Linked DNA regions of Homo sapiens: region 1 is linked to region 2. Evidence: fine-mapped expression QTL. A gene starts in region 2. The other region holds a variant in brackets. All regions are shown on one strand. Distances are from middle to middle. Region 1 has its middle 21 kb from the start of LNCPRESS1. Region 2 holds the start of ZNHIT1 (zinc finger HIT-type containing 1).

Region 1 (4,381 bases), 60 kb after region 2:
CTCAGCTCACTGCAACCTCTGCTGCCCGGGTTCAAGTGATTCTCCTGCCTCAGCCACCCAAGTAGCTGGGATTACAGGCACCTGCCACTGCGCCCAGCTAATTTTTGTTGTTTTTTTGTTTGTTTTTGTTTTTTGGAGACGGAGTGTTACTCTGTCACTCAGGCTAGAGTGCAGTGGCGCCATCCCGGCTCACTGCACCTCCGCCTCCGAGGTTCAAGTGATTCTCCAGCCTCATCCTCCTGAGTAGCTGGGATTACAGTCATGTGCCACCATGCCCTGCTAATTTTGTATATTTAGTAGAGACGGGGTTTCACCATGTTAGCCAGGCTGATCTCGAACTCCCGGCCTCAGGTGATCCGCCCACCTCGGCCTCCCAAAGTGCTGGGATTACAGGCGTGAGCCACCTCTCCTGGCAAGTGGGACGGCATGCTGCATGGGCCGGGAATCCCCATATGTTTCACCAGCACAGCTAAGTCATCTGCCCACTTTTAAGCCAACTGACAGCCAAGGGAACGAGCGGCAAACTGGCAGCAGTGACACCCACAGGCAGAAGGCAGCCCAGGGTTGGCTTGTCTCGGCCTTTTGTGGAGTCCCAACTCTGTTGTCACCCTCTCCTCCTTTATCCTCTTGCCAAAGCCAAGCTCATTTTCCCTCCACAATGAGGGGATTTTCTCCATGGTATAGCTGATTTTGGTTTTGCTTCAACGGCCAAGTTTCTTCTCCAGTGTAATTTCGGCCAGCACACTGGTCCGACCAGGCCCTACTTGCCCTCAGGACATCTTGTGGCTTACTAATTCTACTGTCTGCTTTTTCCGCCCCAGTTTCCAAAAGGGAATTGGCTGGCCTGGGTGACTTCCCTAAATTTTTGAGCCAGATGACTTCAAAAATCATTGGCCAGCCTATATGGGATCCTGGTCCAGTGAACTGTATATTTGGGGACTTGGTGGGTGGAAGAGAGGCAGGGTCACATGGTGTCACACAGCTGCCTGGGCAGCGGTTTCCATGGAGGGGCCAGGGGTAGCACAGGTGATGGTGCAATGGCCTAGGGCATCCATAGAGGGTTCTCAGAGCCCAATAACTGTACTAGACAACAAGGCTGCTCTGTCGGGAAGAGAGACCAAGTGGAAGAACATGAGGCACCAGTCACGTGACTGCAAAAGCCACTTTGGACATTTCAGCCCCAATAGCTGCTGCGAGAACAGGAGGCCTCAGACATAGTGGAGCAGAAATAAACCAGAATACAAGACTCACGAAACTGAGGGCATCATCACATTCTTGAGTCCGAACGGCCTCAAGGCTTCCATGGCTCGAGAACGTCCCCCAGTTCCCACAGCAGAAATTCCAGTGCCTGTGGGTAGAAAACTTGAGTTCCCTCATGAACATGGCTTTAATAGGGATTGGAAGTGTTTCTTGCCTACTAGACTTAGGATCTTGGGAAACTTTTTGGCTTTGACAGGCTGAAGAAGGGACTGTGGAGGTAGGACTATTTCTTTCTTATTCTTTTTCCTTTCTTTCTTTTTTTTTTTTTTTTGAGACGGAGTCTCGCTCTATCACCCAGGCTGGAGTGCAGTGGCACGATCTCAGCTCACTGCAACCTCCATCTCCCAGGTTCAAGCAATTCCAGGCAGGACTATTTCAAGATAGCCATGTAACAGACAGAAAACGGGCTGGTTCTTCCAGCAAATGGAATTTTAAAATTCCTCAATGGGGCCGGGCGCGGTGGCTGACACCTGTAATCCCAGCATTTTGGGAGGCCAAGGCGGGCGGATCTTGAGGTCAGGAGATCGAGACCATCCTGGCTAACATGGTGAAACCCCATCTCTACTAAACATACAAAAAATTACCTGGGCATAGTGGTACGCACCTGTAGTCCCAGCTACTTGGGAGGCTGAGGCAGGAGGAGAATCGCTTGAACCCGGGAGGTGGAGGTTGTAGTGAGCCGAGTTCATGCCACTGCACTCCAGCCTGGGAGACAGAGCAAGACTCCGTCTCAAAAAAAAAAAAAAATTAGCCAGGTATGGTGATGTGTGCCTGTAGTCCCAGCTACTCAGGAAGCTGAGATGGGAGGATCACTTGAGCCCAGGAGGTCAAGGCTGCAGTGAATTATAATCATGCCACTGCATTCCAGCCTGGGCAACAGAGCAAGACCCCATCTCTTAAAAAAAAAGAAAGTTACCACTTTGGGGAAATTGCAGACTCTAAGCCTAAACTCTACTGGCC[C/T]GATACACATGGCAAAATATTTGGTCAGGATTCTGGAAGAATATCAAAGAATTCACAGGGCAGAGGAAAGCTTTGAATATTATGAATGAGGGAAAATTTCCATTCATCTCATAATTCATACTAGAGAGACTCCCAATGAATGGCACCAGCGGAGGAAAATCCTCAGACGGAGGCAAGCAGTTATCGGAGATGCGAAAATCACAGGGGAGGACGTGGCACAGAATAGCGTGGAACCCACGTCACAGCTTGCGCCCAAGAGCATCACACGGGAGAGAACCTGCGTCCTCAATGAACGGCGTTCCAAAAAAGCACAACCGCACCAAGCATCAGATAAGCCATTCTGAGCTCAGTCTTTGGAATGTAATGAATTGGGGGTGGTGATCATTTGAGAAGAAATCAGCCCTTATTCATCAGCTGATGATTCCCACTGGAGAGAGGGCGGGTGCTCGTCACGGATGACGAAGCTCTGGGGGTGCTCCGATCACATATAACACAAGAGGCTGCAGAGGGGACCCAAGGGGGGCTGTCAGGGGGCCTCAGGGTACACGTGACATAAAACGGTTACAAGAGGAAAACATGATGAAAAGGGCAAATTTAGAAAGTGATTTCAGGCTGGGCACTGTGGCTCGCACCTGTAATCCCAGAACTTTGGGAGGCTGAGGTGCGGCGGGGCAGGGGAATCACTTGAGGCCAGGAGTTCAAGACAAGCCTGGGCAACATAGCAAGACCCCATCTCTACCAAAAATCAAACATAAATCAATAAAACATTTTTAAAAGCTTTTCTTTTTTGGAACTTGTCCTGTTAGCACCAGCAATGGCTGTGGGGAATGCAGACACCCTTTGGGGGAGTTTGCTCAGATGACACAGTCGTGCACATGTGATCCTTGGGGCAACTCACAGGGGTGCCCTAATGCCATGTACAAGAATCCAGGCCCAGGCCAGGCGCCGTGGCTCACGCCTGTAATCCAGCATTTTGGGAGGCTGAGGCGGGCAGATCACCTGAGGCCAGGTGTTCCAGACCAGCCTGGCCAACATGTTGAAACCCCGTCTCTACTAAAAATACAAAAATTAGCCATGCATGGTGGTGTGTGCCTGTAGTCCCAGATACTTGGGAGGCTGAAGCAGGAGAATCACTTGAACCCAGGAGGCAGAGGCGGAGGTTGCAGTGAGCCGAGATCACACCACTGCACTCCAGCCTGGGTGACAGAGTGAGAATCTGTCTCAAAAAAAAAAAAAAAGAGGCTCGTGGCCTCTGGGGAACACGCCCCATGAGAAACTGTGGTGGTGGCTGCTTCGTTCATTCCTTCATTCTTTTCATATCTTTGGAGCATCTGTTCTGTGCCTGGCACTACTCTGTGGGGGGATAGAGGACAGGGCAACCTTGGGGGTCAGAGGAGGGTCAGGGAAGTAGCAGCTGCTATTTCAGATTACAGGTGTGTGTGTGTCCCAAGGTTCCAGAGGGGAGGGAGCTTAGGTGGGGGCTCTGGGAAAGAGGGAGGAAGACCCTGATCTAATGACTGCCTACCACGTGTCAGGCTGGCAGGCGATGTCTCACAGCAACCCTGCAAGCTTGGTCCTGTTTTCTGCACTTTGCAAATGGAGAAAATAAGGCACATGTACAGCTGGTAAGTGGTAGAGTCGGTACTGAGACTGGGTTGGCCTCACTCCAAATCCCATTTCTCTTATTTATTTATTTATTTTTAATTTTTATTTTTTTCTGAGATGGAGTCTTGCTCTGTCACCCAGGCTGGAGTGCAGTGGCGTGATCTTGGCTCACTGCAACCTCCGCCTCCTGGGTTGAAGGATTCTCCTGCCTCAGCCTCCCAAGTAGCTTGGCTTACAGGTGTGTGCCACCAAGCCTGGCTAATTTTTGTATTTTTAGTAGAGACGGGTTTCACCATATTGTCCAGGCTGGTCTCAAACTCCTGACCCTCATGATCCACCCGCTTCGGCCTCCCAAAGTGCTGGGATTACAGGCATGAGCCACTGTGCCTGGCCTCTTTTTTTTTTTTAATTTTTTAGAGACAGGGTCTCACTCTGTCACCCAGGCTGGAGTGCACTGGCGTGATCACGGCTCACTGCAGCTTCAACCTTCTGGGTTCAAGCTATCCTCCTGCCTCAGCTTCCCGAGCAGCTGGGATTACAGGCATGCACCACCACA
Region 2 (4,321 bases):
TCCGCCAGCCCCCACTCGGGCCAGCAGAAGCTCTCTGCAGAGAAGAGCAGGCGGCTGCCACTCTGGACGAACTTCTTCAGCAGCTCTGTGGGGCTGCCGGCCAGAATCACGTCGTAGCTGGGTGAGGAAGGGGAGGATGGGCAGGGGTCCACTGGGAACCTCAGCATCCTTACCCCGCTCCCTATCCCCAGCCCCGTTACCTATCCACAAACATGATGATCATATCCTCCCGGTCAGCGTATTTCTCCATTTCCTTCTTTAACCACCGGACCTTCTGTCCTCCACCAACTGTTCGAGCCACATCACCCCCTCGCCACTCCTCTCCCAGGCCCAGGGTCTGTGGAGAAGATTGCCCCGTGCCAGGCAAGGGGTGGGGAGTTGTGGGGGGAACTCCTGACCAGGCTTACCGTGGGGACCTGGGCATCCAGACTTCAGCCCACCCCTCCTGCTGGGACCCCCTCCCAGGGGCCTTTCCCTCTCCTCACCCGCACAGTGTAGTTGAAGAACTCCGCAGAGCGCAGGAAACGCAGGTACCCCTCGGTTTCAGCTGTGGCCACAGTGATCACCAGCAGCTTCTCTGTTACCAGAGGGAAATGGCACTTGAGATCCACCGCCCAGCTCCGGGCCTCACGTGCTTTGCTGTCCTCCCTCTCACTCGACTTCCCTCCCTTTCTTCCTTCCCATTCTTAAACTCTTCTCACCCAGGAACACTCTGACCCCAAGGAGGGCAGGGTGGGAGTGGTGCCCAGGAATTCCGAGTCCCTTTGCATAGGGAGGCTGGAAACCCCAGTTCAGGGTAGTGATGGGCGAGGGGCTTGGCGCGACTCAGCCTCAAGAGCACGCTGGGCGGGGGACGGGCCAGACACCTCCTCGAGCCTCCGACCCTCTCCGGGCCAGGCTGGCAGGCACGCCAGCCTCTGCCCCCTCGGCCGTGCCGGGCCTCCCCGGGATCTCACCTGGGTTGACCGGGTCTCGGCCCCGGGGCCGGTCGGAGGCTGAGGCCGCAGGGGGCAGCAGCAGCGGCAGCAGCAGCAGGAACCGGGGTCCAGGCCCCGAGGAGGTCATGGTGGGGAGCGGGCCCAGACAGCACCCAGGATCCTGGGATCTCCGCTACGCGCCTGGATCCCAGCTCCGGAGGGGAGCTCTGGAAAGGGGGCGCTCGGGCTGCTGTGCGGCCGCCGCGGGGAGCAGCTTGGCTGGGGCTACGCCCTGAAAAAAAGGCGTATCCGGAGGCTACAGAAAGCTCCAGATGCCGGCGCCACAGACAAGGCGAGGATTGTCCCGGGCGCACGGGAGGCGGGGGAGGGGCGGCGGCTCGGGCCGGCGGGCGGGAGACAGGGACTCTGGGCTGAGCCAGCCGCTTGACACATGTGGAAGCTGAAACCTGGACAGGGGAAGTGACCCCTGGCGGAGGGTCGGGCGGGACGCGGGGGCGGGTCCTGGCCGCAGCCCTGCCCAGAGAGTGCGGGCGGAAGACGGGGAGAGCGAGAGGCTGGCGGCGACAGGGAGGGAGGAAGCCTAGGAGTCCGCCGCGGGACGGAGGCCTGGGGGAACTGGGAGTTCAGCTTTCTGCAGAGGGCCACTAGGAACCTCGGATTGCCCACGGAAGCCAGCCACTTTCTTTGACAGTCCAGCCCACCTCCTCTTCTGCCCGGAGAAGCTCCAGGGGCTGCCTTTGTGATCACAGCATCTTCACAAGGACCAAAGGAAAATAAGATTTCTTGTAAGAACACCGTGACCACATCTTTAAAATGACCCATTTCGTGGCTCCCACAAGATTTACACCTCCACACTGAGGCCGGAAGTGGTTTTGCCCCTATAAAACATGGCGAAAAGCTTTCTTGTCTCCAAGGAAACGCCACGTAATGAGTCAAAGCTGTGGCGCACGCGCAGAAGTACAAGCTACCGGAAGTGATGGCGCCCCTACTAAAGCCTTGGGGTTAGTACGCGTGCGCAGCAGTTTCTTCCGACAGTTGTGTTGTGCCAATGGTGGAGAAGAAAACTTCGGGTATGTGAGCCCCCGCGGTTCGCCCCCTTCCCCTTCCCAAGTCAGTCCTAGAATTTTCTTACCTAGTCATTCCTCTTTTTTGGTCTCGCTCTTTCGCCTAGGCTGGAGTGCAGTGGCATAGTCATAGCTCACTGCAGCCTCGATTTCCTGGGATCAAACCATCCTCCCACCTCAGCCTCCGGAGTGGCTGGAACTGCAAGCATGAGGCCCCACGCCTGGTTAATTTTTAATTTGTTATGTGGTGACGGGCTCTCGCTATGTTGCCCAGGTTGGTCTCCAACTCTTGGCCTCAAAGCGATCCTCCTGCGTGGGCCTTCCAAAGTGCTGGGATTACAGGCGTGAGCTGCCGCGCCCGGCCCCAGCTATTCCTCGTAAATCCCTTCCTCAGCCCTCGGGTCCTGGCGTTGACCCTTCATTCACGTTTTATTGGTGCCTGCTCCAAGCCGGGCGCTGGGGATGAAGAGGAGAAAGACCCCTCTTATCCAAGCATTGGCTTTTTCTGGAAGGGGGGCAGAAACGCAGACCTAACACTGTATTTTACTGTGATTTGTGATTTGTGCTATGGCAGAGGGAAGCACAGCGCCTGGGAACAGGGAGACGTGGCATCTAGCCCAGGTTCTGGGAGGCAGGGGACTGTGAAAGCTTGAAGGAAAAATGAAAAAGCTTGAATTGAGTCTTGAAAGTCTAGTTAGGGTTTCTCTCAGTGGGAACCTCACGTGCAAAGGCAGTGAAGCAAGAAAAAGCAAGTCGCTTAGGAAGCCAAGTTCACAGTTTGGATCTTACAGAGTAATAAGAAAGGATCGAAGGCTGGGGAAAGGTTACATTTTGAAAGGCATTATACACACTGCCCAGGAGTTTGAACTCTGTAGGGAAACACTGGAGAGCCAGCAAAGACTTTTTTTTTTTAGACAGAGTCTTGCTCTGTCACCCAGGCTGGAATGCAGTGGTTCTATATAACTCACTGCAGCCTCAACCTCCCATGCTCAAGTGATTCTTCCACCTCAGCCACCTGAGTAGGTGGAACTACAGGTGGGTGCAGGCCACCATGCTGGGCTAGTTTTTATATTTTTTGTTGAGATGGGTGTCTCACTATGTTGCCCAGGCTGGTCTTGAACTCCTGAGCTCATGTGATCCTCCTGCCTCGGCCTTCCAAAATGCTAGGATTACAAGTATGAGCCACTGCGCTTGGCCCTTTTAGTTTTTCTTTCTTTCTTTTTTTTTCTTTTTGAGACGGAGTCTTGCTCTGTCCCCCAGGCTGGAGTGCAGTGGCGCAATCTCGGTTCACTGCAAGCTCTGCCTCCCGGGTTCACACCATTCTCTGGCCTCAGCTTCTGGAGTAGCTGGGACTACAGGCGCCCGCCACCACACCCAGCTTATCTTTTGTATTTTTAGTAGAGACAGGGTTTCACCATGTTAGCCAGGATGGTCTTGATCTCCTGACCTCGTGATCCACCCGCCTCGGCCCCCCAAAATGCTAGAATTACAGGCATGAGCCACTGCGCTTGGCCCTCTCAGTTTTTCAAAGGCATCGCAGTCTCCCAGCCATCAGTTTTTTCATGTTGGCCTCAAGGTCTGAAATACCCCGCTGTCTCCCCTAGCCAGGTCATTCACCAGTTAGGCCTTAACCTAGACTTACCTTCTTCTGGGAAGTCTTCCCTGACTACTCCAAGGCCAGGTTGGGTGTTTCTGTCCTGGGCTCTGCAGCACTTTATACTTCCGTATCCTAGCCTACTCCATGCTGTACTTACTGTGTTTGTTTCATTAATCATTTGTGTTTGCCACTGGACTGTAAGCTTTGGCATCCCTAAAACCTAGAGCACTGCCTGGCATTTGGAGGGGAGACAGAGTAGTACAGTGATCATAATCATATTTTTTTTTGTTTGGTTGGTTTTGGGTTTTTTTTTTTTTTTTTTTTTTTTTGAAACAGGGTCTTGCTCTGTCACCCAGGCTGGAGTGCAGTGGCACAAACACAGCTCACTGCAGCCTTGAGCTCCTGGGCTCAAGCAATCCTTGCGCCTCAGCCTCCTGAATAGCTGGGACTACAGGTGTGTCCCACTACACCTGGCTAATTTTTGTATTTTTTTTGTAGAAACATGGTTTTGCCATGTTGCCCAGGCTGGCCTCGAACTCCCGCGCTCAAACAATCCACCCACCTTGGCCTCCCAAAGTGCTGAGATAACAGGCATGAGCCACTGCGCCTGGCAAGGTCATGCTTTTTGATGCTGGGTAGTTCTTTGACTCCTGACCTGGCCACTTGTTAGCTATGTGAACTTTGGACACATTTCTTAATCTCTGAATGTTGGTAAATTGGGG

The links. PIP is the estimated chance that this variant, and not a neighbour inherited with it, causes the effect. A credible set is the group of variants that fine-mapping cannot tell apart.
Region 1: its variant is the best candidate, but not a certain one, in a credible set for the expression of ZNHIT1 in whole blood (TOPMed, PIP 0.88).

Annotation. Positions count from the first base shown.
Region 1 is chr7:101,276,176-101,280,556 of GRCh38, forward strand. No RefSeq gene overlaps it. Among named protein-coding and RNA genes, the nearest start is that of LNCPRESS1, 21 kb to the right of the region's middle. The variant C/T (reference allele first, on the strand shown) is at 2,221.
Region 2 is chr7:101,216,210-101,220,530 of GRCh38, forward strand. ZNHIT1 (zinc finger HIT-type containing 1) reads left to right here and starts at 1,956. Exons shown (of 5, transcript NM_006349.3): 1 at 1,956-2,008. The coding sequence starts at 1,987. PLOD3 (procollagen-lysine,2-oxoglutarate 5-dioxygenase 3) reads right to left here and starts at 1,372. Exons shown (of 19, transcript NM_001084.5): 1 at 957-1,372; 2 at 486-577; 3 at 201-337; 4 at 1-117. The coding sequence starts at 1,065. RefSeq lists enhancers at 478-1,000, 1,549-1,668, 1,762-2,303 and silencers at 799-918, 979-1,028, 1,169-1,448.